Linked DNA regions of Homo sapiens: region 2 is linked to region 1. Evidence: fine-mapped expression QTL. A gene starts in region 1. The other region holds a variant in brackets. All regions are shown on one strand. Distances are between the middles of the regions. Region 1 holds the start of LINC02145 (long intergenic non-protein coding RNA 2145). Region 2 holds the start of MED10 (mediator complex subunit 10).

The links. PIP is the estimated chance that this variant, and not a neighbour inherited with it, causes the effect.
Region 2: its variant is fine-mapped to the expression of LINC02145 in subcutaneous fat (FUSION, PIP 0.95).

What each region holds. Positions count from the first base shown.
Region 1 is chr5:6,330,016-6,346,637 of GRCh38, reverse strand. It overlaps LINC02145 (long intergenic non-protein coding RNA 2145), which reads left to right and starts at 9,346. Exons shown (of 2, transcript NR_028351.1): 1 at 9,346-9,488. RefSeq lists an enhancer at 3,092-3,592.
Region 2 is chr5:6,376,226-6,391,724 of GRCh38, reverse strand. MED10 (mediator complex subunit 10) reads left to right here and starts at 13,178. Exons shown (of 4, transcript NM_032286.3): 1 at 13,178-13,363; 2 at 14,476-14,559. The coding sequence starts at 13,242. RefSeq lists enhancers at 12,724-12,943, 13,234-13,443. The variant G/TG (reference allele first, on the strand shown) is at 11,994.

The DNA of each region.
Region 1 (16,622 bases):
GTTATTGTAAGTTTTGGGTTCAATTAGATTGGAAAGTTTACTATACAGCATATCTTTCCCTTTCCTCCTCCCTCCTTCTCTCCCTCCCTCCTTCCTTTCCTCCTTCCTTCCCTCCTCTCACCCTTCCTTTCTTCCATTAACCGATCCATCCATCCATCCATCCACCCACCCATCCACTTTTGTACTTACTGGAAAATGAGCCTATACATTTAGAGTGTTTACATGTATCTCCCATAGTTTCTGAAGTGAAAAAAAAAGACTCAGGGGAAACAGCATGTTGCCTGGCAGAACTGGCGGCTTCCGTTCAGAAGGCAGAAGGGCAAAGTAACTGAGGTTCCTGGGTGGTGTTTTTCTTCTCTGTGTGCAGCCAGCCCTCTTTATTCTTCATCTCTAGGGGCTTCACATAGCTGGGGCAGCCCCACCCTTCAGAAGTGTCATCTTGGCTATAACTGGTCCATTTAACATGCATGCCAAGCACCCATAGGGCTACAAAGAGCCATGGTCCTGCTTGTGGATTTGCAGATTGAGTAACTGGTCAAAAAAGAAGGCATGAGAGATATTCCAAGATGCCTGCAAGGCCAGCCAGCCCTGGCTGATCCCCTCCTGTGTACCCACAGATTCACCGTCATGACCTGTGTCTTGCGCCACTTTTGGAGCATGGGATTTCGGACTCCTCCCCAGTACAGGCCGTCATCTGGAGTTCTGTCGTGTTTCCATATTTCACATGGAGTGATGAATATGCTGGAGATGTGGGCTCTATGGAGAGTGCTGGGCTTCTTCCAGTTGCCATATCTGTTGTCCCCAAGAACCAGTGTCCTCTGCAGCTTGACAGAACCTCTTTTCCCTGGTTCTCCACGCCTTAGCCCACCACCCTTCCTAAAATCTTTTCCTTGGAGCATCCATCTTCCATATAGCTCTATCTTGCCACCTCCTGAAACCACATCTGCTCTCCCTTCTCCAACAGGCTAGTGGGTTTCCTCCCAGAGGTCCACGCAAGACCTTGGCTCAGCAGAGTGGAGGTGCCTCCCTCCTCCTCTGTTCTCTGCTGCTCTTCCCCCGTTCCTAGTGGAAGGTCATCTGTGTCTGCCACCTCACTCCTTGGGTACCAGGTCAGTCGTGATGGCCTGTTAATTTTTCCCTTGTCACATCTTTCTTATTTGTGATTTTATGATATTCCCAGGCCCCAGTGCTAGGTCAGGGCTGACTGATGCCACTCCTGGGAACGTGTGGCTGCTTATCCCCCTGGCTTCCCTCTATTCTGCAGATAAGTGACAGGTAGTGGAGGCAGTGGTGAATGGGCACACCCTGCTCAAAGTTCAGAATGACTGCCATTTCCACCCCTCCAAGACCTGAGGTTGGTCATTCACAATCACATGGGTACTTTCCACACTGGTGGCACCTTGGAAATGATTTGCAGATAGCAGCTCATTGAGTCCTCAAAATAACCTAACAAAGAAAATATTTTACAGATGGGAAACTGAGACCTAGAGAGGTGAAGTGACTGAGTCACCCAGCTTGCAAGTGCTACAGCCCAGGTTTGAAACTGGGCAGCATGTCACTCTTGGATAGCTGCCCATGCTCTACTCCTCTCCCTTCAGCCGAAACCCTCCAGGGCCCTCCCAACAAAGCCGTCTCTGCATCATGTCCCTCCTCCTGTCTCCCTCCTTCGTCCACCCTGCCTTTCTCTAGTCATCCCGCCTTGCTTTATCTTATGAGTTTCCTTCTCCTAAGAATATGTGTGGAGCAGACTGTGAGCTTCTGAAGGCAGGCCACTTGCCTGTGCTTATTACTTAGGACTTTTGTTTACAATTCCTCATCACACCAATCATGCTGCCTCATACATATGATAGTAGCTCAATATGTGTGGAATGCAGATTATCAACTTGCTTCATGCTGACCATGCAAAGGAGAGGTGAGGCTATAGTGCATATGCAAAACCAAGTGAAAACTAAGGCAATTATGTCGATAATTCACGAAGAAAAGCACACTTTTTGGGGGGCTTAATTATCTGGATTTATCCAGTGGGCGTTTTTGAAAAAGCAATTATCCAGACAACAGCCGGAGGGTTCCCTTTCACGTTGAGTGGGTCACAGGGCGCCTGAGTCAGGAGCTTTGTGTTCTGGGGTTGGCCCAGAAGCCCAGTCATTGTTGGATTCTGGGAAAACCAAGTGGCTTCCCCGTGCCGTAGTTTTTCTTTCTGTTATTGAATGAGGCCAAGATCTTCACAGAGCTGGTTCTTGTTGCGTAATCAACCTCCTGTTTTTTGTCTTGTCTCACTTGCTAATTCTCTTAATTCCAACTTTTAGCATTCATTTTATGCTGAGTTTTTCTCTAATTGATTCTTTGGAGCTTTTTATTTCCAACGAGGTTGCAAACTGTGGTGCCAACATCCATTCCCTGCTTTCTTGGTGGACCTGCCCACCTCCTGGAACCCAGAAGTGGACCCTACAGGGCCCAAACCCACAAAGTACTGATGGCTAGGAGTGGTGACGTCACCACAGACCCCGTGCCCCAGTGCAGTGACTCTCCCCTGGCTGCTGGCTTCTGCTGCCTGCAAACACCCAAGGCGACGGCCCCTGGGTGTGGCTCCAGCATCCATGTTTCACTGAGAGAGCCCCTGATGACTGTGGTGGGGCTGACAGTCATGGCAGGGCTTCCAAAGACACCTGTGTCATGAGCTCTGTAGACATCACGTCCCCACTCAAAAAGGTTCTGATTTGAGAACATTTTGGATTTCAAATTTTTGGATTAGGGATGCTCAACCTGTATTGACTTCAAGTGTTAAGGCACCAAATAGAAGATCCATTTTTTGAATCAACCTTAAACGGGATTTCTTTTTTAAGCAGCGATTCACAAAACTGCCTCAATCTATGAGAGACTGTAAAGCTAAAAGAAAACTGCAGAGCCTCAGGGCTAGGCGGCCTGGCAGGCACACACTGACAGTGCGCTATCTTGAATGTGACCTGGTCTTGGAGATTCCATCAGAATAAATAGAGCCACGGCCCCATGCCAGTCTGAGCACTCCATTTAATTATTCAGGGGAAACTCGGATATACTCAGGCCTTGAAATGAGGCAGAAGCTTGCAAGGTTTCAGACTGTGTTCAAACTTCCCCTGCTAGCCAGCCGTGTTGGAAGCATCAAGCATCGAAGCCTCGTGAATCAGCATTTGGAGAGGGAGATCAGCCGGGCTAAATTTGGAGATTTTTGACTCAGCCATCAGTGAAATTCAGCAGTTCCTCCTGAAGCTTTTGGTGACCTTTTGGTTTCATCCAAGCTCAAATACCAAAGGCACTGTGAAAGTGGATAGAATTGTAAACCCTTGCGTGAAGATGGTGCAGCTGGCGTTCTGAGATGAGTTCATCCACCACAGGACTAAACACATCTCTGTGCCTCTAGCTTTTCCTGTGAAGGAATGGAAATGGGGTGGTGGGGAGGGGCAAGAGGTGGAGGCAAACAAAGAGGAGGTGGCAAGGAGATGCCCCTCGCCATGCCTGGCGCAGAACGCAGGAGGCACCCGTCTGGACCTCACCAGTGCCGGCGCCCCGTAGCTGTCTCCCACCAGCTCTCCACGGAGCTCAGAAGGGCCCAAGTCAATGCATCCTCCAACACATCCTCGTGTATTGCCAACTGAGCCTTTGAGCGAGTGTTCAGCTGACACTAAGTGCTTTTTGCTCTCAGCACAATTATGTACTTCTGAATAACACTCGAAGCATCCTTTGAATGTGAAAACGGGTTAGATCAAAACATCAAAGTGCACCTCTGTCCCTAATGATCCTTTTTAATGCATCTGTGGTTTCTAACATTAAGAGAAAATGTGAATTTAGCTGTGTGCTTTTATGTGTCTACTCTGTGACTTGTTTATCCAGGCTATACTTAGAAACAATAGAAGAACATAAAATATGAATACAGTATCCATATTAAAGTATAATAAACATTCTGAAGTATGTGTTAAGCTGTCAGGAGCTCTGCCGGACTGGAAGATGTAAGCTGGGGCTGGGTTCTTCATTGTGTGTGGACTGAAAGCCTCGCTAATGATGCCACTCTCTTCCAGCCCTATTTCAATATGTTTTAGCTACAGTACTTTAGCGTCAAGATCTTTTCCTCAAGCCTTTCTGGAATGAATCATTTCTTCTATTACTTATTGGTAAATATCTTGTTTTTGTTGTTTTTAAATTACAGAATAACTACATGCTCATCATAAATAAATGATGTAGAAATTAGTAACTAAAATAATAATTTCTATAGACTCACCTCGCTTATAATTTAACATTAATCTGTCCAGAATGAATATAAGTATATTCATACACAAAATGTATTGTCTGTAATCTTAACCCATTTATGGCTAGTGTTCCATTATTGGAATGCTAAGCTTGTGGGAGTTATTTGTATCCTACTGCTCAAGGTCATCGCTGTGGTCTGATTTTTCACAAAAAAATTTGCAACCTCCAGCATATAAATGGGCTAATGACATAATGCAAAGGATATTATCCAGCATGTCTTGCTTTCCTCACTTAATGTATATTTAACAACTTTTCATGAATGCCTATTTTTTGGTAGAAAAAGCTAAGTTACAAAATAAGATAAATTAAAAATACACGGCCAGGTGCAGTGGCTCACGCCTGTAATCTCAGCACTTTGGGAGGCAGAGGTGAATGGACAACGAGGTCAGGAGTTCGAGACCAGCCTGGCCAACATGATGAAACCCGTCTCTACTAAAAATACAAAAATTAGTTGGGCTTGGTGGTGGGTGCCTGTAATCCCAGCTACTTAAGTGGCTGAGGAAGGGGAATTGCTTGAACCTCAGGAGTGGAGGTTGCAGTGAGTCAAGACTGTGCCACTGCACTCCAGCTGGGGTGAAAGAGTGAGACTCCATCTGAAAAAACAAAACAAAACAAACAAACAAAAAACCCCCAACATTATGATATAGCTATTCATTGGGCAGCCATTAAAATTCTAGTTATGAAGATTATATCATTACATGGGAAATATGGTAGATGGTGAATGAAAATGATATAAAAGTATTAATATGATATAACATTATTAATAACCAAATATCCAGTTAGGGTTTTCAAACAAAATCTGTTCCTTTTCTTGGTTAAAGTGGCATTATCTTGATGAAAAAGAAAAAAAAATCTTCTGCTTTTTTGGCAAAGTTTCCCTTGGCTGTCTTTAGAGTGTGCCATCCATGTGGATGTCATTTCTCCTGATGATCCGGGTATGATGATGGGGGCTCTCTTCCCTACTTGGAGCTCCTAGGCTCACTCCCCCACTGACCTCACTCAGCTGAGTTGTTAATGGGTTTCATCCTGGCATAATCCCATTTCTATTTTTAAGCTCTTTAGACCCTCTTGGGTAAAACTAGTTTTAACTCCAAATGCACTTTCTTTTTGAATAAATGTGAATTAAGCAATTTCAGGGAACAAAATGTTTGACAATGAACAGGTTGAGTGTAAAGGATATGAATGTTTATTTGGGATATTAAATTCCAAATACAAATAATTGTATTATTCTCCAAATGCAAGGAGTATGAAAGTTGTGTCTTGTATCTTATCCTTCATAGCATGGGAGGTGTTGCTATTTGCTAAGTGTATTCTAAAATGAAATCTTAATTTCCCCCTTCCCACCCCACTTGCTGCAACTCAAATTAGCAAGTTGCACCATCATCCTCACTGTTGCTTAGGCCAAAAATCTACGTGTTCTTGTGGTAGTTAGCTTCTGCCGCAGTAACAGGTAGTCCAGACATCTCTGTAGCTTGCAACTGCAAATGTTTGTTTCTCACTCTGGGGTCTGAGGCTGGCTGCAGCTTCTAAGCTGCTCCTCTTGGCTGGACTCCTTTGGGCCACCCTTCTTCTCACCCAGGACCCAGGCTGGCAGAGAAGTTACACCCTGGGGCATGCTTTCCTCAGGGTGCAAGGTAGAAGTCAGGAAGGACAGCAGAAGCAAATGATGCCTTTTAAAGCCTCTGCTTGTATCTGGCACACTGTCACTTTATGTGCATCCCATTGCTTGGAACAAATCATGTGGTCAAGTCCAAAGTGAAGGTGCAAGGACATGCACTGTCCCCTCATATAAACCTTCACATTATTCTGCAAGTTACTTATGGCTGAGCAACTCCCACGTGCACATGTAAATAAACCTTGCCTTTTCTCCTGTTAATCTATCTTCAGTTAATTTGCAGGCCCCCAAGCATGGGACCCAAGTGGTAGAGGTGAAATTTTTTCTCCTAACAATAGCATATTTTGGCCTAGTGATTCATGATAACTGTAAGTTATTAACAATACAGTAGAATCATTCCAAGTTATACTTAACATTTAAAACTTTCATCAATGATTATGAATGATGACTCATCCCAGGGACACAATGCTTAACACCACCTGGCTTGAATACTGACTGATCCACTTACTAGCAGCTTAACAATACAATTTTATTTTTAAAAATTTATTCATTTATTTATTTTTTTTAGACAGGGTCTTGCTCTGTTGCGCAGGCTGGAGTGTAGTAGTGATATCTTGGCTTATTACAGCCTCTACTTCCTGGGCTCAAGCAATCCTCCCACCTCAGCCCCTTGAGTAGCCGGGACCACAGGCATACGCCACCACACACGTCTGATTTTTGTACTTTTTGTAGAGACAAGGGTTTCACTGTGTTGCACAGGCTGGTTTCAGACCCCTGAACTCAAGTAATCCACCTGCCTTGGCCTCCCAAAGTGCTGGGATTACAGGCATGAACCACCACACCGGCTCACAATTTTATTGTTTTACAGTCCTGAGGTTGGAAGCCCGGCACTGTCCCCCTGGGTTAAAGTGGAGGTGTCGATAGGGCGGGTCCCTTCTGTAGCTCCAGGGGAATATCTGGTCCTTGCCTTTCCCAGCTTCTAGAGGCTCCTGCTTTCCTCGGCTAGTGGCTTGTGGACCCTTCTGTCTTCAGAGCTGGCAGTGTGCGTTTCTCTGTGCCTTTCTCCATAGTCATATCTTCCTCTGACCCTGACCCTCTTTTCACTTTTGAGGAGTTTTGTGATTACACTGAGGACATGAAGACCATCCAGGACAAGTGCCCTCTTTCAAGGCCTGCTGATTCCATCTGCAACCTCAGTGTCGCCTTGCCACGTTACCTAACATAGGCACAGGTCTGGAGATCAGGACTTGGATGTTTTTAGTTTTTTTTTGGAAGTACTGTTCTGCCTTCCACACTCTCTGCAGCTTTTCTGGTGGATGCTGCATCAGAGGTAAGGAGATGCCGCCTGCACCACCCTCCACTGCCCACCCACACACCAAGCTGTAAGGTTGGGTTAAGTTTCTGATGCAACTAGGCAATGTGACCCCACGAAAGGGGCAGAGGGGCACCTGTCACACATGGGCACAGGCTGTGGGGCCAGCTGGCTGGGCTCACATCCTGGCTGCACCTCTCATGAGCTCTGTAAGCTCCCTGGGCCTCCCTTTCCTCACCTGTGAAATTGTCACAGCATGCGCACCTGCCCTCTGTGCCATGTGGGACTTGGGGGAACATCTCTAAAGCCCTTTGCCAAAGGCCAGTCAGGTAGCAAATGCTGTGTGAGGGTTTGGGACATAAACACACACTGGCAGCATGCCTGAGCGAAGCTTCCGTGGCCTTCTGAGTGTCTGGCCAGGTCATTCTGGGAGCTGTCAAATACACCTGGCTGTCTTCCTTTTCTGGTCACATGGTTCTGGACCCTTTGTCCTTTGTTGGGGCCATTGGCTTGTTCTGGAAGCTGTGCTGAGAGCACAAGTGATGTCGAACACCCCAGGTCAGAGTGTTACCATGCCAGAAGGCCCCAAACACAGATGCTCACCCCAAACACATTTTGCTGTTGGCTTCCTGGCCTAGATTCCAGCCAGGGATCCTCCTAAGGAACCTCTCTGGTCTCCTCCCGAGCTTGCAAAGAGAGGTCTGAAGAAAGCTTGCGATTGCTGAGCATGGGGGCTGGAGCACTCAGCGCCTGTCGCTCACATCTTATTTGAATTTCAGAAAAACAGGAAAAGTAAATGCATGAGATTTTTCTATTCAATTTCAAAGCCTTTTCCCAAAAGTGACTTTTGATAACTGTCATTAAAAGGAAATAGACACAGTATAAAAAAAAGCAAAAATCTTATAATGTAAAAATTACTTGATTTCCTCTGCTTTGCCACTGGTTTAATAAAAAAAAAAAAGCTCCTTTTCTACTTAAAGCTGGCATGATCATTGAATTCATAGACTTATGTCGCTGCTGGTCTTAGTGCTTAATATATACAGTGACTCATTCTACTTAATGGCATCAACAACAGATGCAGAGAAAATGCTTCACAAGCCCAAAGATTGCAGTTGGAAAACCCCGTGCAGTGGGAACAATTCTTTACTAGCCCTAATTGAGGGCAGCTACTCTTTGTGCTTGCCTGTGACAGTTTTTTTTTTCTCTCTCTTTTCCCTCCTCTCCTTACGTGTCCACCCAGATTCTGCAACCCATAGATGGTGGTCTGTGCAGACCAGCAGCCAGAGTCTGCCTTTGGCCTCTGATGCTGTTGTCCTCAACATATTTTCTCCTTCTGCACCCCTGCCCACAACTCCTCTGTGCTCCCCCTCCTCAGGGCTACTTCCTACCTGAGGGAAGATCAACCAGAGGGGGCTGGTGATCAGGACCCAGGGCAAGGGCTCCAGGGAGAGTGAGCTCACATTTGCTGGGAACCTGGGAGCACACGGTGCTGGGGAACCTGCCATCCCCCAACTCAAGTGTGAACGCAGAGCTGGATTTCAGCATCACTCAGGCCCTTTGTAATATTTATTTTGTGCATTTCTTTTTTTTTTTTTTTTGAGATGGAGTCTCACTCTGTTGCCCAGGCTGGAGTTCAATGGCATGATCTCCGCTCACTGCAACCTCCGCCTCCCTGGTTCAAGTGATTCTCCTTGCCTCAGCCTCCTGAGTAGCTGGGATTACAGGCGTGCACCACCATGCCTGGCTTATTTTTGTATTTTTAGTAGAGACGGGGTTTCACCATATTGGCCAGGCTGGTCTCGAATTCCTGACATCAAGTGATCCACCTGCCTCGGCTTCCCATAGTGTTGGGATTACAGGCAGGAGCCACTGTGCCCAGCCTATTATGTGCATTTTAAGACAATATTTTATAAAAGGATTAGGAACTTTTTCAGGCGGTTGAAGAGAGCTCTATTAGAACAAAAAAGGTTGAGAATTCCTGGTGGAGATAAAGTGCAGGGAGAGAGAAAAGTTAGAGGACACGCTCCCTGTCCTAGGACTTTGGGGTGGCAGGGCCCTGAGGCTCTGAGAGCAGCCCAGACTTTGCCCTTATTCTCTGTGTTTCAGGGCCTCGCTACCTTTCCAAGGCAACATCGTTCTTGGAGCACCTGCTGAGGTGCTCTCTGCTGGGGGCCGTAAGTGAGCATCGAAAAAGCTGTAAAAAGTATCCCTGCTGCTCTCCAGGGACTCACAGCATGGACGGCACCTGCATTGAGAGAAGACGGCAATGGTATCGTGATGGTGAGTCTGTTGCCGCTGTATAGAGAAATGGGGAGGGAGAACTCAATTGCAACTTGGGAAGAAGATCATCTGGGAGGAGGTGGAGCCTTTCTGTCTTGAAGGTTGGGTCTACCTCCAGGTGTGAAGGAAGGACATTTCATATACAGGGGAAAGAGGTTTAAAGTATGGAGCTGGTGTGTGTGTGTGTGTGTGTGTGTATGTATGTGTATTTGCACCTGGAAGCATGAGTGTGTGTGCACGTGTGTGCTGGCATCTGGGTCTGTGGTCACAGATGTTTGCACATGTGTGCATGTACCTCTTTGTGTGTGCATGTACCTCTTTGTGTGTGCATGTGTGTGTGGCTTATTTGTGAAACAAAACCAAAAGCCAGATGAGGAAACTTTATGGGAAGCGAAGTCTGAAGACAGATGGGGCCCAGGCTGCAGACATCTGGAGGGCCAGGCTGTGAGGGCAGGGCTTTGGCTGTGTGCGGGGCAGTGGGAAGCCTAGTGGGGTAGGAAGGGCCACTTTGAGATGGTGCAGTGGTGACAGGAGAACACGATGACTGAGGCCAAGAGCTCAGTTAATATTTCAAGTGGGATGTTGTGAGGCCTGAAATAAGGCTGACATGGAGTGGGTGGGGAGGAGGGATCTGCATCATGGGACCCCCTACTCTGGAAGTTGCTTGGCAGCTGCCCATCAATCATTGAATAGACATCTGTTGAGTTTCCTGCTTCCTGCCCTGCACTGTGCTAAGTAACAGAGGTACAGAGCATCTCAGTCACCTCCATGGTACTCAGACCCCCTCCCAATGCGGTCACACATTGCTAACAACAGTGCTGCCAAAGGAACAGCTGAGCACTATGTGTGCGGGTGGTGCTAACTCTTGCATGTGGGCTGTGCCAGGTGTGTGCCCAGCGCTTCCTCAGGAGGCATTAAGGAGCAAGCTTCCAGATACCCGCTTCTCAGCCCAGCTCTGGCTGTTGAGCTGCTTCCCCCTGTGGGATGCTGCAGCTTCCTAACTGCTGCAGTTTTCAAAGTGTGCAAATCTGATCTAGAGAAGTAAGGCCACTAGCTCCAGATGGGCCCACAGCTGTTGGGTTCAAAGGGCTTCAACGAGCCACGATTATTATCTGTGGTCTTGATAATAAGATCATTATCTTATTCTGTGTTCCTGTAATAACGACGTGTTTGTAAATGTTGACCCTGCAAGGTGACAGGTAGATAAAAATGCCTATGGTTCTGATAAATAGTCATTGGATATTTATGTCATCCAAGGGTGGTGGCTTTGGAGTGTGGAAGGTAATAATAAGACAATAATCTCGTGATAATAGTCTGAGATGAATTATATCTTTAATTATGCTTAAAATAACTTTTAAAGAATAAGTAAGTGAATAAATAAGCAATGTGACAAATAAACAACTGGTGTCAACAACTCTAGAAGTTTGGGGAAAATAAGTTTCTAAAATTCCTTGACCCTCCTTCCATCAAGAGATGGGGTCTCTGTCCCCCTTTGAATCTGGGCTCCATATTTCTTGGCCAATACCTCTTTCCCCTGTATATGAAATGTCCTTCCTTCACACCTGGAGGTAGACCCAACCTTCAAGACAGAAAGGCTTCACCTCCTCCCAGATGATATCCTTAGAGAATGGAACTTCGTGTCTGATGACTGAAGTGAGCTTAGGCCTCCCTGGCCAGCTACCAGGGCCTTCCTATGTGCTGGCACTGGGAGGTCTGTGTCCTGAGCTCGCCTGGCCCTCAGGCTGGGCACACACCGCACACCAGTGAGCAGCAGCCATGTGGTGCTGGCAGCTTGGTGGGCACAGCAGGCATGGCCACGAATCTAATGCCTGACAATGACAGGTGTTGGAGCATGTGTCTTAAGCAAGCTGGACAAGGTGTGCATCAGCCAGCAGAAGGGAGACAAGGATGAGCCTGCTGCCCATCTACACTCAGCTCCTGTCTTTGTCTTCCTCAGCCAGTGGTGAGGTGATCTATAGTGGTTCTGGGACAGTGTATTATGGCAGAATCAGGTCCTGGGAGGTGAGCGTGGCTTCCTGCCATGAGCTACCACAGCTCAGATGCCTAAATATTTAGTGCACATTCTGTTCATCTTCCTATAGACTGGGCATTCAGAGCACAAAATGCTGTTGCAATTCTTCCTCCCATAGGAGGGCATCTTGAATGTGCCAGGGCTGGTTTCCAGCCTCTCCCATCCTGCTAATGGGTGCACGCTTTCCATGAATTGCTGTGTGATGTTCACACGGAGGTACGGTGTCAAGGGGGTTTGTCCAATCTGTAAAGGGAGTGGGTAGGTTGAATGCAGCATTCTCCAAAGGGTAACCTCATGAATTCCAGGGCCTGGATGGAAATGGCAGCTACCAGGTGGAAAGGCCGTGTGGACTGACTGGTTTGGAAAACCCTGAGCTTAATGCAGGACTGAACTCTAGTGTCTCAGATGCTACAGAAATTCAAGACAAGATCAAGTTCTTAGCTTCTCTTTGGCTTCTCTGTGGTTCTCCTAGTTGCTGTTGGGGGCTCCTGCTCCTTTCTTTCCACCCCATGCAGGTATGGGCGCTGCTTCTCTTCTGCTGAGGGATTCTCCTACACTAGGAAAGGTTCCTCCATCTGCCCCTTCATCAAAAATATTCTTCCTTCTATCTCATTGCCTTAGAGTCTGCCTCTATCAACCAATTACTCCTGAGACTATGAGCTGTCACTCACCATTGTGAAGAGGGGGCTTCAGTATCTCCATGCCTGTTCCTTTCTTTCTCAAGTCCTCCCATGTATGCTACTGAAAATCTGCATCCTGAAGATTCACTTTTTTCTTAGAAGTCTGGTCTCTAGAGTAGGAGCTGGCCACTTTTCCTGGAAGGGGCCAGAGAGTAAATATTTGCCAGCCATGCGGTCCTGTTGCAGCTACTCAGCTCTGCTATTGAAATGTGAAAGCAGCCACAGAAGATGGGTCAGTGAGTGGAAGTGGCCACATTTGGCCCATGGGGAATGGTTTGCCCACCCCTGACCTAGATAGAATGTATCACGGGTCCCCTTGGAGCACTTGTCATTTGCCAAATTATTGTCTTCCCTCCAGCCAGTTCCACCCATAGAACTTAAGTTACCCTTAATTTCAACCAAGGAGTGGAACCTGACCATGAATCCATGCTCCAATGCCTAAGGCTTTGACTCTTGGCTGGCTGGGCAGAGCCAGTGAGTGGAAACAGATGGGGAGAAGAATTGATGCTGTTACTCTACCACTGAGGGCTGTCTGTCTGTGAATGAGGGGTGAGTACCCTGACACTGGGGGTCACCAAGAAATGGCTTTGGGTTACTTTGTTGTGGAAATTACAGGTAGGCTTTGATGGGCTCTGAAGGAAATTTCAGAGTCTGACCTTTAAGCTGCTTCTGATTGAGATTCAGTACCTGGCTTCTCTCCTCCTGTCTTCTATCCTCCCGCTCCCGCTGCTGGGCATGTGGTTGCTGCAGCTTGCAGTGTCCCGTGCTAGCATGCCTTATCCAATTTCCTCTGCACAGTTCAAATATAATAGAAACAGATGCCTGCTAGAAAGATGAATTGGAACTAGGACTATGTCATTGAGTTATTGAATTGTTTTGATGGCTTCCACAGGCTGATGCAGTCACACAGGGCAGCTACAGCTTCAGTTTTGTCTGGCTGTTTATCAGCTTTGGAGTGAGTTGTAACAGAATTCCTTCCTGCACTGTGGACTGCTCCTCAGCTGTGAGAGCCCTGCCACCATCCAGATCCCCAGCAAATGTGATATGTGAGGCTGGCTGGGTGGATGTACCCTGGACACAAAGCTCTTTTCTTGTTTTCCTCCCGCTCACCCAGCTGGAAGCCTTGTCGTGCTATAGTTGCTCTTTTAGCACATCTAGGTATCCCAGGTTGTGGACATCAATAGATCAGATCCAATAGGCTGCAGCTGTCTGTAGAGGGATGTTGGGAAGTATGCAGGTCTGAGTTTTTATCCTACTTGCAAGTACACACCTCAGCTGGCCCCAGTTTCCACAACACTCATGGCTCAGAGACAAAGGCTTTTATTAAAGCTGCATTTCAGTTCTCTTTGAACTGAAGTCCCATGAGCAGGAGGCGGACAGGCCAAGATACTATTTTTGTGCAAAGTTTTCTCAATCTAGGCACCATGTACATTTTGGGTCAGAATTATCTGTTGTGGCAGTGTGTGTGTGAGGGGGTGCTCTTCTGTGCATTGTAGGATATTTGGCAACATCCCTGGCCTCTACTCAATGGCTATTGTTTTCACAACATCTACAGCCAATATGAACTGCTGCTCTATGGTATGTACAAACGTGTGCACTATTTAAACACTGTTGAGAAAAAGGACCTCCTTGGAACAAAGGCAGATGAGTACCTTTCCTGGGTGGCACTGGACACAACGATGCTTGGCCTCTGGTCTGTGGCCCAGAGGTAGACAGTAGGCAGCCACATGAGCTGGACATCCATCCCCAAACATGGGACATTTCTTTGCCATTATCAAAGAGGGGAAGGCCACTTGGTAGACTCATTTTTTCATGTGATTAAGGCCTACTCACTAGTACACTACTAAGTCATTAGGGACCAATAAAATTTGTCATTTAAATCAGAGATGCACTCAATGACAACATACCAAATGCTGAAAATCAACCATCAGCTACATGTTACCTTCACAGGATAAATTTCTAGAATAAAAGAATAAACTTGAATTTTTTTAAAAAATGTGATCATTATATTTTCTGATGGTGGAGTGTAAGTATGATAGATTGCTTCTGTGATCATCCTAGTGTGCATGCTAGTAATGCAAAATGCTTGCCTCCTTCCCACTGGTAGGGTTTGAGCATGGCCAGTGTGAGGAGGTGTTAATGTAGTTCTCGTGGTGAAGGTAGTTGGGTGGCCCTACTACTGAAGTTAATGCTGCCAGCATTATATTTTGTGATAATAAATGCAAATTTAGACCTCAACTGGTTAAAATAATTTTAATACATAAAACATTAGGAGATTTTCACTCCAAGCCATATCTGTAATACTTACATGATTTTGACAATCAATATTCAGATATTGACAATAAATCCAAGTAACATACTTTGTCCACATTATTGGAATTTTTATGCTGATTGGATATGATGGCAGTCTCTGGACCATGTGAGTGCTGAACACTCACAAGTTTAGTGATCCAGCGATGACACTGATACAGGTACGTGTCCAGTTTCCTTCTGACGGCCTAATATGAATCAAATGTCAGACTTTACCCAAATACTGAGGCTTCTGCCTAGTTTATTCAGGACTAATTAAAGTTTCTTTAAAATGTCTGCTCAGCATGGTGGTTCACACCTGCAATCCCAATGACCTGGGAGGCCAAGATAGGAGAATCACTTGAGGCTAGGGTTTGAGACCAGCCTGGGCAACATAGTGAGATTCTGTCTCTAAAAAATAAAAAAAAAATTAGCCAGGTATGGTGGTGCCTATATAGGTGGTACCTCCTATAGTCCCAGCGACTCAGGAGGCTGAGGCAGAGGGATCCATTGAGCCCAGAAGTTGTCAGCTGTAGTGAGCTATGATTGTGCCACTGCACTCCAGCCTGGGCAATAGAGTGAGACCCCATCTCAAAAACAAACAAATAAATAAATAAATAAATTTGTTCTCCTGAGAAGTCTGACATCCCCCTGGGCACCATGGTCAGGATCCTACTGCAGAAGAATTAACCAAGGTGGATGCTGCTTGTATTAGCTTGTTTTCCCATGGCTATAAAGAACTACCTGAGACAATAATTTATGAAGCAAAGAGGTTTAATTGACACACAGCTTTGCAGGCTGTACAGAAAGCATGGTGGGTGAGGCCTCAGGAAGCTTACAATCATGGTGGAAGGTGAAAAGAAAGGAGTCACATCTTACATGGCTGTAACAGGAAGAAAAGAGCAAAGCAGGAGGTGCTACATACTTTTAAACAAACAACTCTCATGAGAACTTACTACCATGAGAACAGCAAGAGGGAGATCTGCCCCCGTAATCCAATCACCTCCCACCAGGCCCTTCCTCCAACATTGGGGATTACAATTCAAGATGAGATTTGGGTTGGTTCACAGAGCTGAACCCCATCATTCTGTCCCTGGCCCCTCCCAAATCTCATGTCCTTCTTACATTTCAAAATACAATCATGCCTTCCCAACAGTTTCTCAAAGTCTTAGCTCATTCCAGCATTAACTCAAAAATCCAAGTCCAAAGTCTCATCTGAGACAAGGCAAACCCTTCTGCCTATGAGCCTCTTAAATCAAAAACAAGTTAGTTGCTTCCAAGATACAATGGAAAATGGGGGTACAGGCATTGGATAAATGTTCACATTGCAAATGTGAGAAACTGGCCAAAACAAAGAGGCTACAGGCCCCATGCAAGTCTGAAACCCAGCAGGGCAGTCATTAAATCTCAGAGCTCCAAAATAATCTCCTTTGACTCCATGTCTTATACCCAGGCCACACTGATGCAAGGGGTGGGCTCTCAAGGCCTTGGGAAGCTCTGCTCCTGTGGCTTTGCAGGGTACAGCACCCAAGGCTTCTTTTATGGGCTGGTGTTGAGTGCCTGTGCTTTTCCAAGGGCACATGCAAGCTGTCAATCTACCATTCTGGGGTCTGGAGGACAGTGGCCCTTTTTTCACAGCTCCACTAGGCAGTACCCCAGTGGGGACTCTGTGTGAGGGCTTCAACCCCACATTTCCCCTTCACACTGTCCTAGTAGGGGTTCTCCATGAGGGCTCTGCCCCTGCAGCAGACTTCTGGCTGGACAACCAGGTATTTCCATACATCCTCTGGAATCTAGGTGGAGGTTCCCAAGCCTCAATTCTTGCCCTCTGCACACCTGGAGGCTTAATGCCATGTGAAAGCCTTTGTGGCTTCTTGATTGCACCCTTTGGAGCAGAGCAGCACCTCTGAAACATATCTGAGGCCCTTTTAGCCACCGCTGGAGCTGGAGCAGCTGGGATGCAGGGAGCAGTGTCCTGAGGTTGTGCAGGGGAGCAGAGCCCTGGGTCTGGCCCATGAAACCATTCTTCCCTCCTAGGCCTCTGGGCCTGTGATGGGAGGGGCTGTGTGAAGGTCTCTGAAGTGCCTTCCAGTTATTTTCCCCATTGTCTTGGCTATTAACATTAGGCTCCAC
Region 2 (15,499 bases), 46 kb before region 1:
CATACTATTGATACTATCTTCCTAACTGTCCTAAAACATTGCCTTGTTTTTCTCTCACTCAACTGTTCTGAGATAAGTAATCCATTTAGGTGGAGAATCTCTGCTCCACTGGGCATTCTAAGATCCATGTTCCTTCCAAACCATTGCTCCTCCATCCTCAGGGGCTCTACTGGCTGATACAGTTGCCGCTGGTGACATGTGACTATTTTAATTTTAATTAATTTAAATACATTTAAAGACAATTGAAATTTCAGTTCCTAGTTGCACTAGCCATAGCTCAAGTGTCTAGTGGCTCGCGTGTTGGACAGCACAGATCTCAAAACACTTCTATTATCTCAGAGTGTTCCACTGCTCTGGGGTACTGTCACCTGCCTGGTGGGACCAATCACCAGCACATCAGGGACAGCCTGAAGAAGATGCACCTGATGCCTCATGTTCCCACCCCGAGCAGATACCCATCATTCCTGCTCCCATCCCTTAGTGCAAAGGCCACAGCTCACTTCAGGGAAGCCTGGGTGTGTTAGTCTGTTCTCACACTGCTATAAGGACATACCTGAGACTGGGCAATTTATAAGGGAAAGAGGTTTAATTGACTCGCAGTTCCACAGGTCTGGGGAGGCCTTGGGAAACTTATAATCATGGCAGAAGGGGACACAAATACATCCTTCTTCACAAGACAGCAGGAGAGAGAAGAATGAGAATCGAGTGATGGGGGAAGCCCCTTATAAAACCATCAGATCTCATGAGAACTTACCATCATGAGAATAGCATGGGGAAAACTGCCCCCATGATTCAATTACCTCCCACCGAGTCCCTCTCATGACACGTGGGGATTATGGGAACTACAATCCAAGATGAGAATGGTGGGAAGACACAGCCAAACCATACCAACGGGAAACACAGACAGTGGGTAGCAATGGGTCTGGCTTCAATTCCATTTCTATGGCAGAAGGGCAGAGCAGGTTTCATTGGGATGCAGGCAGTAACCACTAAACGCATTCTGTCTAAAGGTGGAGACGGTTCTCAGCCTCTAGCAGATTCTCTACCTCTGAGGAGGGAACAGGGCCCAGATGTGTCAGAGCTGACCAGGAAGCTATTAATTCTGCCTGAGGCAGTAAGCAAAAGCTTCACCAACATGCTGACATTTATTTCAGATTTCCCCAAGTAAAGCAGAAGGTATGGAAGAAGACTTTAAAGCAGAGAAAAGAAACCAGCAAAGGCAAAGAGGCGGGATTGGTGAGGGTCCCATGAGGCTGTAGGGCACTGGTCAGTGGGAAGGTGGTATCAGATCAGGTGGTAAGGATTTAGAACTTGTTCTGAGGACCAGCGATTCTCAAAGGAGAAATGAGGGCTGCAGAGCAGCTTCCTGGAGGTCGACTCTTTTCACACTACTTGTCTCACCCCTCCGAGAATCCTTTCCCTCTGCCAGGGGCACATGCACCCACTCCTCTCCTCCTGCCTCACCCAGAGAATTGGGGTAATAGAGTGAGTACATGGTCATGGGGATGGGGCTATGCAGAGAGAGGATTTTAACATCCCTGGTGTAGACAGCGGGGTGATGTCAGGAGGTTTTAGGTTGAGGAATGACATCATCAAATACATTTTTGGAAGAAGGAGCCAGTATACAGCACAAAAAGGAAAGCTTGGCTTTGCACATTTTGGGTAGAAACTGATAGAAGGAAGCCACGTTTACCAAATGCCTTCTACATTCCAGGTGCCATGCGAGATGCTCCACACATCAATAGGCACATTTCTTCTATTTCCAGGAGGAGAAATCTGATGTAAGTGAATCCAGCAGGGATCTGTTCACTGGGTGCAGCGAAGTCAAAGACTGATGTTGGGATAGTAGCAAGAGAAAGTGAGGCGTTTATGTAGGGCCCCAAGCAAGGAAAATCAGGCATCCCATGTTCAAGACCCAACTCCCAGATGGCTCATAGGTGAGGGTTTTTACCAACGTGGAGGCAGAGGTTACAAGTAAAGTCATAAATTCAAATATGGAGACTATACGTTGGTTTGACCTAAAAACGTAGGACAACTGGAAGTTGGGGGCCCACAGGTTATAGGTGGATTTAAAGATTTCTGATCTGTGATTGGCTAAGGAGGCAAAGCTTTGTCTAAAAATGTGGGATCAGCAGAAAACAATGTTATTAGGTTGGTGCAAAATTGCACGTTTTGCCACTGAAAGTAACAGCAAAAAAAAAAAAAAAAAAAACCTGCAATTACTTTTGCACCAAACTGATAGCTCTAACTTGTGGGTGTGACGTTCCCAGGCCCCTTAGGAAGAAATTTAGAACAAAGAACAGTGACCAGAGTTTAGTTTTTAGTTTCCCTTAATTTGAGGTCTATGTGTTAGCAAATCTGTTTGGTGGGGGTTCAGGTTTTTGAAAAATAACTCAGGGACATATGTTAAGGTGTTATTTTCAGTTTTTATAGGGAATAACATATCTCTTGACTAACTTTTTTGGCTACTGTTTTAAGCTACTATTATCTTTTTGTTTATTCAGTTATTTTTCAGTGTGAGCTAGGTGCCTGGAATTTTTCCTGAAGGAACTTAAGAGTTTTCTTTATTTCTTCACTGGGCAGGGGGTGACCTGCAGGCCCCTAGGAGGAGTCCCTGCTCCATCTCACTGAAGACCAAGACAATTCTAGAAATGGGCCAAAGTCATATACCAAAGAAGTACTGGGGCTGCGTCCCTTCCTGGCCATACCTGAGCTCCACTTTAGACAGCCAGGGGGACATAAGAAATGCCATTTGGGGTCACTGAGGGCTCAGTGTGGTCATGAGCTCCTTGGTGGGAAAGTACAATGGCTCTAGTTTCTTTTTTTTTTTTTTTTTTTTTTTGAGACGGAGTCTCGCTCTGTCGCCCAGGCTGGAGTGCAGTGGCGGGATCTCGGCTCACTGCAAGCTCCGCCTCCCGGGTTCACGCCATTCTCCTGCCTCAGCCTCCCAAGTAGCTGGGACTACAGGCGCCCGCCACTACGCCCGGCTAATTTTTTGTATTTTTTTAGTAGAGACGGGGTTTCACCGTTTTTTAGCCGGGATGGTCTCGATCTCCTGACCTCGTGATCCGCCCGCCTCGGCCTCCCAAAGTGCTGGGATTACAGGCGTGAGCCACCGCGCCCGGCCCTCTAGTTTCCAACATTGTCATTTATGAATTAAGTAGAATGAATGCTGCATTTATTTATATTGTAAACAAAAATTTATATTGTAAAAACAACCCCCCCCCCAAAAAAACCCACCAAACACTCAACTTTTTAGCTTAATAAATTCAGCGAACTCTATTTCTTATTGCAGAAGCAAAAATTCTCTCATTTGTTTGCTGTGGTAAGAATATGATGCCTGAAGGATCAGATACTCAACTCTACACCCTTTCTTGGCAAAATATTTACCCAAGTTTCAATTTCTTCATGAGAAAATGGGGAGCAATCATACCCAGCCTAGGGAGGATTGTTTTTGATAATTATATTTAATATATGTAAAATACCTAGTACAATCCTTGACTTTGGATAGGTTGTCAATAAATGGCATCATCATCATCATCATCATCATCATCATCATCATCATTACTGTTGCTTATCCTAATGTGGCACCCACAAGAATGCATCTTTCAGATATCTGATGGTAAGGGCAGAATTAACCAAGGGCCCTAATGCTCTCCTTTGAAATCTATTGCACTTTTTGCCTCCATGGGCTGCTCAGCCAATGACTGAGTGAGTGATGCAGGAAGGCTAAGGTTTGTCCATTCCTGGGGACTCTGCTGGTGAGCGATTTTGGTTTGGGGGCTTCTCAGTGGTCTTACCAAACTCTCCTTAGGACTGTACCACAGTCTAAGATGCTTCTAGACTCCCTTTGTTTCCTCCCTCCCTCCCTCCTTCCTTCCCTCCCTCTCTCCCTCCCTTCTTTTGGGATCAGACCTGCATTTTGTTCTGATGGTTCTTCCAGCCATGCTGGTTCCCTTTTTCTGTCACATGTATTTCTTCTAAGAAAGTTCTTGTTTAATCCCATCCTGGGATCTGCTCCTCAGAGGACGTGGACTAACGAAACTACAGCCACCTTCTAGAAAGTGAAGGAGGTGAGCCCAGTTCTCTTGTCTTGCGTATTAATAGCCAGGTATTTGTTCAAAGTTGTGCAGATGTTGGTCCTGTCTCCTCTGAGCTTCCATCCTCCATAATGAAGAATTTTCATATATTCTTACTTAGTTTTCTGAAAAAGCGCTTTCTTTTTGCTTTTTTCAGATGCTTTCTGCTGTACAGTCTCCTGGTTATCTGTCTTTCTTGATCAGAACCGGAGCAGGTGTTCCAGGCCTGCGTGCACCACGATTTTCTGCAAGGTAAGACTTTGTTTTCTGGGTCATCCACAATGAGAAGAGCATATGTGAGAAGAGAAATTGAGCATAGCTCATTTCTCTTTGGAGTGTTTAAGACAAACTTAGACTTCAACTGAAAGTCATTAATTTTTACAAAACGCTATGAGATAACAGGGCTTACACCGTGTGCCGAAAGACCCAGGAGGGTGAAGTTGCTATGCAGCCTAGAAAAGTTTGTATTTCTATGCTTGTGTGTATAATCTGCTAAGGAGTTAGATGTCTTACCTTATCCCTATTTCTGTAATGCTGTCCTGCCCTCTCTTTTGAGCTTGTGACAATTTGTAAAAAAAAAAAAACAACAAAACAACAACAACAACAACAAAAAAACAAAGCTGATAGTGAAAGCCAACTGCATACTTCCATTTGCTGATTGGATCACATGCCAGTCTGTATTAGTGTAATCTCATCTTTTTGCTTTTAAAAATTTGATCACATACATCACACAGAATTCCAGGTAGAGCTGCACATTGCTGCAAATATTGCATAGAAAGGAAAACAGAAGAGAAGAGAAATCTTACGGCTTCTCAATGCTTGTTAGTGTAAAAAAAGATACAATTTCTATTTTTTTATTGCACAAGTCAGGCACTCTCATTGGTATGTGAATCTAATAGAATGAACGGGAAACCTAATTTATTTGAACATTCATGTGTCAATGTAGCTCTTGAGGGAAAATAATGTCAGCATTTTCTATCAGATGAAATTATTCTGTCTCCTAATTCTGTATTTAGGGATACTTTTTTGGCTTTCTTTTGACCACATATGGTTCAAATTATAGTAGCTTCCTTTAGGGTTATGAAGAATAAATGAGACAGTCTATAATCTATAAAATATGTTCCAAAATGGCAGATATTGTCATCAGTATGATCATGACCATCACCATCATCACCGTCATCATCATCACCATCATCATCAAACAACAGAGTTGCAAATCTTCCCTTCTGCTAGAACTACTAATGTGCTGAAAATCTTCAAAGTGAGAAGCAGAAACCAGCTGTTCCTTCCTCTGGGTAGGAGAGCTGCATTTTTTTTTTTTAAACTTAAGCTGAATCTGGCTCTTAGAATAAATTAGAATGAATGGCAAAACATGTTCCAAATGATACCACTAAGGGCTTTGGATGCTGATGGAGCGATAATAGTGTGAATGAAAAAAAAAAAAAGGTAAAGAAGAAGGGAAAAAACAGCCTCCAGATTTCAAGGTCACCAAGTATCAGAAGTAAGGAAATTTCCTAGGGGCAGCTCATGTCGACTTCGGAGGGAAAACAAGGCGACAAAACGTATAGTCAGCAATGCTCTGTAGGCTTTCTGCACACGGCTTCCTACCAGGCCGACCTTCTGACTTACTGGAATTTTCCAACCTAATTTCATTTACATTTGGGGACTGGAGTGTTGAAATGTTAAAACGTTTCTTATAAACAAGCCAACAGTATTATGTTGCTAAATAAAGGGAAAGCAGCCATTACTTAGCTGTTTGAGTAAAAGGAAGAATTTCAATGTAGGTTTTTTGTTTGTTTATCTTTTTGTTTATTTATTTTTTTTTTTGAGACGGAGTCTCGCTCTGTCTCCAGGCTGGAGTGCAGTGGCGCGATCTCGGCTCACTGCAACCTCCGCCTCTTGGGTTCAAGCGATTCTCCTGCTTCAGCCTCTTAAGTAGCTGGAATTACAGGCACCTGCCACCACACCCAGCTAATTTTTGCATTTTTAGTAGAGACGGGGGTTTCACCATGTTGGCCAGGATGGTCTTGATCTCTTGACCTCGTGATCTGCCTACCTCGGACTCCCAAAATGCTGGGATTACAGGCGTGAGCCACCGTGCCCGGTCTCAATGTAGGTTTAAGTGGGCTTGGGATGCTTTTTGTTTCAGCAGGGAACAATCTTCACTGGAGTAGTCATTGTGGACAACTGGGAGATGAGTGCTTTAGAAACTGTAGCTGATGGTTAATCACAGGGACTAACACCATCATTATGCTCGTTATGGCCTGGTCCTGAATTAAACATCCCGCGATCACAATACAGACAACGAGTGCTGCTGGTCTTGAGCAGAGAAGGAGGGGTGTTACAGTTGAGTTATATCCCCTCAAAAAAGATATGTTGGAGTCCTGACCTCCAGCGCCTCCAAACGCAACCTGATTTGGAGATGGCATCTTCACAGAGGTAATTCAGTGAAAAACTCCAGTCATCAGGGTGGGCTCTAATCCAACCCGACTGGCGTCCTCATGAAAAGGGGAAATTTTGGCCACAGAGACACACACAGGGACAACACCGCGTGAAGCTGGAGGTGGAGAGGAGGGATGCTTCTGCCAGCCAAGGAACAGCAACCACTGCCAGCAACCACCAGCAGCCGGGAGAGAGGCCTAGAACACGACAGTGAAGCTTCCGGCTGTGTCCAGGACTTTAACAAACATGTTCCTGAAGTTTCATTATTGAGTCTAATGCTTTCTCTATGTTCTTAGTAGATAAAACATCTTTCATCAGGTTTAGAAAGTTCTTTTCTATTCTTAGTTTTCTCAAAGGTTTCTTTTTAATTTAATTTAATGTAATTTTATTTTATTGAGATGGAGTCTCGCTCCGTCGCCAGGCTGGAGTGCAGTGGTGCGATCTTGGCTCCTGCAGCCTCCGCCTCCCAGGTTCAAGGGATTCTCCTGCCTCAGCCTCCCGAGTAGCTGGGACTACAGGTGCGTGCCTCCACGCCCAGCTAATTTTTGTATTTTTAGTAGAGACGGGGTTTCACTATGTTGGCCAGGATGGTCTTGATCTGTTGACCTCGTGATCTGCCCGCCTCAGCCTCCCAAAGTGCTGGGAATACAAATGTAAGCCATCATGCCCAGCCTCTTTTTTATTTTTAAATCATGATTTGGGTTCAATTTTATTAATATCCAGTGTCTACTTAAAAAATCTACCTGAGGTATTTTATCTCCTTTAATCCTTAACAGACTGTTATAATAATGGATTTTATGATATTTCATAATTCATGCAATCCTAGGAAAAGCACAATGGATCATAACTTTTTTCCCAATGTGATGGGTGACAGGTTGTATTTTTCAAAAACAGCTTTGTGAAAGGAAAATAAATCTTGGGACCCCAAAATCACTAAGCCAAAAGGAAAAGCCAAGTTGGGAACTGCTTAGGGCGAACCTGCCTCCCATTCTGTTCCTAAAAAACGTAGCTACTAAGATTAAAAAGCGACATAACTCCCTCACAAGGAATTTCTCTGTGGACAAAGGACAGACAGAATTCAAAGTTGCCCTCTGCTCACTGAGATAAATGCATATCTGATTGCCTCCTTTGGAAAGGCTAATCAGGAACTCAAAAGAATGCAACGATTCGTCTCTCACCTACCTATGACCTGGAAACTGCCTCCCTGCTTCTAGTTGCCCTGCCTTTCCGGGTGGAACCACTGTACATACATATATTGACTGATGTCTCACGTCTCCCTAAAATGTATAAAACCAAGCTGTGCCCTTGGGCCCATGTTGTCAGGACCTCCTGAGGCTGTGTGACAGGCAGGTGTCTTTAACTTTGGCAAATAAACTTCCTAAATTGACTGAGACCTGTCTGTCTCAGATACTTGGGGTTCACGGCTTCAACAAGTTCTCATCTCACCTGCTCCTCTATCAATGTGACTTCTTACTTCTTCCACCGGGAAGACAGGTTATGTTCCCTCCCTGGGGATCTAAATGTGCCCTGGCTGTCGGGGGACTTCCCAGGCAAGGTCATAAGAGGTGGTGCTGCTTTCACCTGCTTCTCCTGAGCTCTGTGCTCTTGGCACCCTGCCACCATCAGGGAGGAAGCTCCCAAATCCCAGGGACACACCCACACGGGGGGGATGTGTGGTCGCCAGCCCACAGCCCCGCTGAATAAGCCATTGTGAAAGCAGGTCCTTCAGCCTCCAGTGAAGCCACCCCAGCCCATGTGACATGGAGCAGAGAGAAGCTGTGAACGCCATGCACAGGCCACAATGCAGATTTGTGGGTAAAATGAAGGACTGAGGTTGTTTTACGCCACTAAGTTTTGGCATGGTTTGCTATACAGCAATAGATGCCTGATGCATGACAACTGATCTAATTCTGATAATATCTTACTTAAGACTTTTGTATCTACTTTCATAAGGAAGATTGACCTATATTTTCTTGTATTGTCCTTGATGATTTTCATATAAAAGTTATACTGCTCTTTCAAAATGAGCTGGGATGTATTTCTTCTTTTTCTAGTCTCTGAATGTATCTGGGTAAGTTTGAAATTATTTGTTCTTTAATGTTTGATTTTTAAACAATTAGTATAAAAAACTGTCCGAGCTTATGTCTCTCCTATCTTTGAAAGAGATTTTTGCCTACTGGCCAGTTTATTGAAAGACTAGGAACTATTCTAATTGTTTATTTTTCTTAAGTTAATTTCTGGTAGTTTCCTAGAAAATTGTTTATATCTTCTAAGCTTTCAAAATTATGAACATATAAGTTTTACCCTCACCCTCACTCATTTATAATACTGTATATTTTTCTCTTTTAGCACCTTTCTTTTCTTCTTCTCTGATGAGACTTGCCAGAAGTATATATATTTGACTCATCTTTTCAACAATCAACTTTTCTTCATTTTTATCTTTCCAGCTTCGAATGCAGCTAGACAGAAAACTAATGCAATAGTTCTCATTTTCATCAGTGTCTGTCTTTACTTTTGTCACCCCTTTTTATGTATTTTTTGGTGCCTGTGATTTCCCTTTTGATTCTTTTTATCCTACTCTTTGAGTTGAAACTCCAGTTTATTTTTTCCAGGCTGTTTTCCCTCAAATTATTACCTCAGGAGTAAAGCAGAAGTTTGACAGGGAATTCTTGTCATTTAATTCCAAATGTTTTATAATTTTCCTTTTAAATAGGATGTCCACATAACGTATCAACCAAACTGGGACATGTTTGACAGTGAGTGGAAGAGTGCTATTAATAATCACACGAAGACAACAGACATAATTGGGTCTTGCCCATTCTCAGATGTATGTAAACTCATGAATTATTTAGAGTGTGTTTTGATTTTCGAACGTGTATGTATGTGTAGAAAATGAATAAATTCATAGATTTCTACTGGAATTACGAGGTCAGAAAATCTGGTCTATGTGATAGGATCTGAGTTTGCTGAAACTTTCTTTGTGGTCTAGGGAATGGTCAAGTTTTTGTAAGTATTTGAAATGTGCTTGGAAACAATCTATTCTTCAGGGGTCACTGTTTTTCAGAGATCACAATTCTTAATATATTACTTAAGTCTTCCATATTCTTCATATGCTTTTTGGCCTACTTGATTTATTGTTTTCTGATAGAGGTACTCCAAATCCTCTGTAATAATTATGGATTTTGAATTTTTCCTCATATTTTGTCAATTTTTGTGCTAGATAATATGGGACTATGTTGTCAGTTGCTTATAGGTGAATAGTATTCTATCTTTAATGAGTCTTCTCTTTACCATTAAAAGCATCTTTTTAATGTTTCTTTACTAACTTTTATATGCATTAACAACTTTCTTTTGGTTGCCTGCCATATATTATTCTATCCTCCCTCTTTATTTTCAACCTGTCTATAAGTTTGTTTTAGGTGTACCTTTGAAAAGCAACATAGCTAGATTAAAACAACAAAACAAAACACTTCCAATTGGATTCTAATCTGAGAGTCTACCCTAACAGTTAAATCTGTTAACATTTAACTGTTAGGATAGACTAACAGTTAAATGTTAAATTAAATAATTAATTAATTAATTAAATTAATTAAATGTTAAATCTGTTAACATTTACTGTGTTCACTAACGTATGTTTTTAGTGGGGAAGGCACACATTTAATGACAGGGAACACAGTTCATGATACACTTTTTAATTTTATTTTTAATTAACAAATAATAATTGTCTATTTTTATGGGGTACAGATGTTAGAGGCATTTGAAGCAGAGCAACTCCATCTTGAATAGGAGCTGGGTAAAATAAGGCTGAAACAAACCTACTGGGCTGCATTCCCAGATGGTTAGGCATTCTAAGTCACAAGATGAGATAGGAGGTCGGCACCAAATACAGGTCATAAACACCTCACTGATAAAACAGTTTGCTGTAAAGAAGCCAGCTAAACCCCACCAAAACCAAGATGGCAACGAGAGTTCTCACTGCTATACTCCCACCACTGCCCTGACAGTTTCCAAATGCCATGACCTGTTAGGAAGTTACCCTAAATGGTCTAAAACGGGGAGGCATAAATAAGCCACCACTTGCTTAGCATACAATCAAGAAATAACCATAACAGCAAGTAACCAGTAGCCCTCGGGCCGCTCTGCCTATGGAGTAGCCATTCTTTATTCCTTTATTTTACTAATACACTTGCTTTTACTTTACTATATGGACTCACCCTGAATTCCTTCTTTCACAAGATCCAAGAACTCTCTCGGGGTCTGGACTGGGACCTCTTTCTGGAAACACAGATATCTCTTTGACATAGTGATTTCAATTCCTTTGAGTATTGTGAAAGGAAAATAAATTTTGGGGCCCCCAAATCACTAAGCTAAAGGGAAAAGTCATGCTGGAAAATGCTCAGGGACAACCTGCCTCCCATTCTATTCAAAGTGATCCCTTTGCTCACTGAGATAGGTGCATATCTGATTGCCTCCTTTGGAAAGGCAAATCAGAAACTCAAAATAATGTAACTATTTGTCTTTCACCTACCAGTGACCTGGAAGCCCCCTCCCTGCTTTGAGTTTTCCCGCCTTTCTGGACAGAACCAGTGTATACCTTACACTTACATATTGATTTATGTCTCATGTTTCCCTAAAATGTATAAAACCAAGCTGTGCCCTGACCACCTTGGGCTCATGTCATCAGGACCTCCTGAGGCCGTGTCATGAGTGTGTGTCTTCAACCTTGGCAAAATAAACTTTCTAAATTAACTGAGAACTGTCTCAGATATTCAGGGTTCACAGTATATACTCAGAAGTAGGACTGCTGGATCATATGGTAATTCTGTTTTTAGAGTTTTGGGAAACTTCCATTCTATTTTCCATAAAGGCTGCACTAATTTACATTCCCATCAACAGTGTACAAGGGTTCCCTTTCCTCCACATTTTCACCCACACCCATTGTCTTTGGTCTTTTTGATTATAGCCCTTCTAACAGTGTAAGGTGACATCTCATTATGCTTTTAATTTGTATTTCCCTGATGATATGTGATGCTGAGCATTTTTGCTGGTCATTTTTATGTCTTCTTTTGAGAAGTATCTGTTCAGGTCCTTTGCCCATTTATAAATTTCTTCTTTTGCTTTTTTGCTGTTGAGTCGTGTGCCTTTAATTTTTGCACTTTACGTTGTGAGTTTTATTTTCCATGCTTGTTCTTTGCTTCTTTATTCTCTTCTTTTCTTGCCTTCTATTGAGTTGATTGTGTTTTCTTTATTCCCTTCCCCCTGTCTACTAGTTTGGGAATTATATATACTAGCAAAGAGATACCCTTAAATTTTTAAAATAAATACTTACCAAAGCCTAAGTTCCATCAATTATCTATCTTTCTTACTTATGAAATTGAGAAAGGCCGTTCACTCCATGTCGCTACCTCTACCTAATAACTTAAAATTTTTTATTTGTCTAATATTTTATTTCCACCTTTTTTTTTTTTTTTT[G/TG]AGTCTTGCTCTGTTGCCCAGGCTGGAGTGCAGTGGCATGATCTCGGCTTACTGCAACCTCTGCCTCCTGGGTTCAAGCAATTCTCCTGTCTCAGCCTCCCAAGTAGCTGGGACTACAGGCGCACACCACCATGTCTGACTAATTTTTGTATTTTTAGTAGAGACAGGGTTTCTCCATATTGGTCAGGTCGGTCTCGAACTCCTCACCTCAGGTAATCCACCTGCCTTGGCCTTCCAAAGTTCTGGGATTACAGGCCTGAGCCACCACGCCCAGCCTCCATCTTGTTTTATAATTCCCTAAAGTTAATTGTTGTTAAATCAGGAGAGAAGTATTTTATGTAACATTTCTGTTTATCAGCCCAGCCCACCAACTGGAGTGCCCTGATTCCATAAGTTTGGCAAGTCACTTACCTTCTCTGGCTTTCCATTTCTGGTCACAGCTGGGAGAGGCTCTGAAGATCATCTAGCAAAGGAGCTCCCTCACTTTGCCTGTTTCTAGGCACTGAAAAGTACAGGCCACAAATATATTCAGTAAAATAAATCACTTGAGAAATTCAAACAGGCTAGAGGAGATATCCGCTATCATAGGAGATCGGGCAGAAAAGTTTCTTAAACATAAGAGTGAAATGACCTAAACTGAATTTCAATGAGATAAACAGCAGTTTACTAAGACAGGGCAACCCCACAGGGTGCTGTTTGGTCAGAATTGGCCCGAGGAGGTGAGACCCTGACCTACGAAGGCAGCAGGTGTCCGGGAAGCATGGTTAGCAGCAAGAGCTAGGGGAGGTGGCCGCCGATTACATAGAAGAAAGGAGGCAGGCAGGCGCTGATCCCAGGGGTTCTGGTAGAGGGGCAGGGAAACTACCGTTATTGGTCCTTCATGCAAACTTTAGGATTTTCATCCATGTGTGTATTGCTTGAAGATGCTGCATTGCAGAAAGTCTTCAACTTCTCCCATGACCGAGGCAGGTCTGATGAGAGTGCAAACAGTTAGTACTCGCCCAGCTGCGCGCCGAGGCCTCCTCCAGAATCCAGACCGCATCCCCGAAAGCCCGCCCTGCCCCGCACTTAGGCCCCGCCCCAACACGCCCGTCCCGATAACGAGGCTCCGCCCCCAAGAGCTCGCCCGCGCTCCCCCAGAGGAAACGGAAGTCGTATCTGTCCGGACGGAAGCAGGAAGCGGGAGCGTAGGGCCACGCCTGCGGCGCTGCTGGTTGAGGCTGTGTGGGTCGGGGACGGGCCGAGGCGATGGCGGAGAAGTTTGACCACCTAGAGGAGCACCTGGAGAAGTTCGTGGAGAACATTCGGCAGCTCGGCATCATCGTCAGTGACTTCCAGCCCAGCAGCCAGGCCGGGCTCAACCAAAAGCTGTGAGTGGCGGCCCGAGGCTGCCGGGGTCTCCCCAGGGCCTGGCCGGGAAGCGTGTGCTAGGGGAGCGGGGATCTAGGGAGCCCGAGCCGAGCCTGACCGCTACTCGTGCCCCGCCAGCCCTCTGGTCTGGTCCCGGAGCCCGGGGCGCCTTTCCTGGCTGTGTTCAGAGGGCGGGGCCCGCGCTCCAGCCTGTTGCCAAGAGCCAACCTCTTTGAGGCCCCTTTGGAGACGTCGTCATGGCCAGATGATATACTTTACGTTTCCCTATCAAGGGAATCATGCTTTCTCTTCTAGCGTCTCCCCTCTCATGTGTAACCCCCTCCCAGCCTTTTCCTCCTGGAGCCCTTCTGGGAATTCAGTCCCTGTCTCCAGAGGGGAGGCAGGCTCCACAGTGAGTGCACGCCCTAAACTAGGCCTCAGAAGGTGAGGCTCCGAAGCCACCTGCCGCATAGGCCTGACAGTGGAGGAAATAGCGGGGAGGTGGTGCTGAGAAAGGTTGCAGAACGTTTATTATTATTATTTCTTGGCAACAGCCTTGTGCTGCCCATGTTGCTAGGCCCTGGGTTGGAGAAAAGGCAAATGCAAGTACAGCACTTTCGAGAAGGGCTTTATATGTGGCACGGACATAGAAAATGTTGCACTCGAGGTTCCATACCTAGTGCTGTGGGAATAGCCAGACCAGCCTGATGCTGTAGGAAGGCTCCAGAGAGGAGAGGAAGCTAAACCAGACAGTATGGCTTTCTTTCCCTCAGACTTTGAGTATAGTCCGCTGCCTCATGTGTTCGCTGAAACCGCACACACAGTCATATGCACAGTCAGGTAATTGTTTTTGAGAGAAGGTTCATATTTTTCATCAGGTTCCCTCTCCATCCCCCTTACTGGCAATTTCTAGTTGAGAAGGAAAGTAACAAATATTTAAGGGTATTTTGTAACTCTAACGGTGTCCTAGGAATCCTGTAGCTAACCAAAGAGGTCAGAACCGTGTGTAACCCGCATAGCTGTGAGGAGAACGAACTTGCGTGGAGCCCCGGTTGGCTGGGTAGCTCTGTGGGTGGTGCTTATGCTGTCAAGCGAAATTAACCAGATGCCTGTGTGTTTGCCTTTCCCCCAGGAATTTTATTGTTACTGGCTTACAGGATATTGACAAGTGCAGACAGCAGCTTCATGATATTACTGTACCGTTAGAAGTTTTTGAGTAAGTAACATTCTTGATATTAGTCTTGGGTATAAATCTTGTTCAGTTATGGTGTGGTATCGTGACTTCTTCATCACTGGCATTCGAGTGCCTGCTGTGTGGTAGGCACAGCCTGGGTGCTGGGGATGTGCCAGTGGAAAAAAAAATAGACAAAAATACAAAAATACCTGCCCTTATGGAACTTCCGTTCTAATGGCATTACAAAACGAAAAAAAAGAATATCCTTAATATTCTATTGTGGAAAAAAAGTTACATGTAAATAAAAGCTTATTAAATATATGAAATACATCATAGGTCCTCAAAGCCCTGCTTAGGCTAAAGAACAGCCACAAAACTTTCTTTTTTCCTTAAGAGGTGAAAAGTCCTATGAGGGCTATATTGTAAATTTTTAAAAAATGGCAGCCAGAAGCACCTGAAAAGCAAGCTGGTCTGATGTTCCCAAACTGCCCGTGGAGTGCTAGTTCTGAGAGGTGAAAATATCTGCTCTGTCGAAGGAGGAAAGAAAGGGTTCTTATTCCAAGTATGTTTGGGGAGGCTGCTCACTGTTTTCTGTGCGAGAGTTGTGTGCACCTATGTTAGTAATAGTCCTGAGAACACATACAGGAATGAGCTTTTAGATTTTTAAAATCCAGGTTTTCTTGCATTGATTTGGTCACATCTCTGATTTCACACATGAAGGACCTGATAAGTAACTGCAATAGGTTGTTTACCTAGTAAGTGTCAGAGTTAAGACGAAACCCCCGGACTCATACTTTCTTGACCAGTGCAAAGCAGCCTCTCCCTGATGGTGCTGGCTTGGAACAGCAAGAACATTCTAGTATTTCTTGCAGCAAAACTGCAAATGTAAATCACTAGATTTCGTTAAGCAGTAAAGGGAAAGAGTTATGGCTGTTTTCCATCCCAAAAGGTCAGAGATACAAGTTCTAGCTATAGTGCAGCA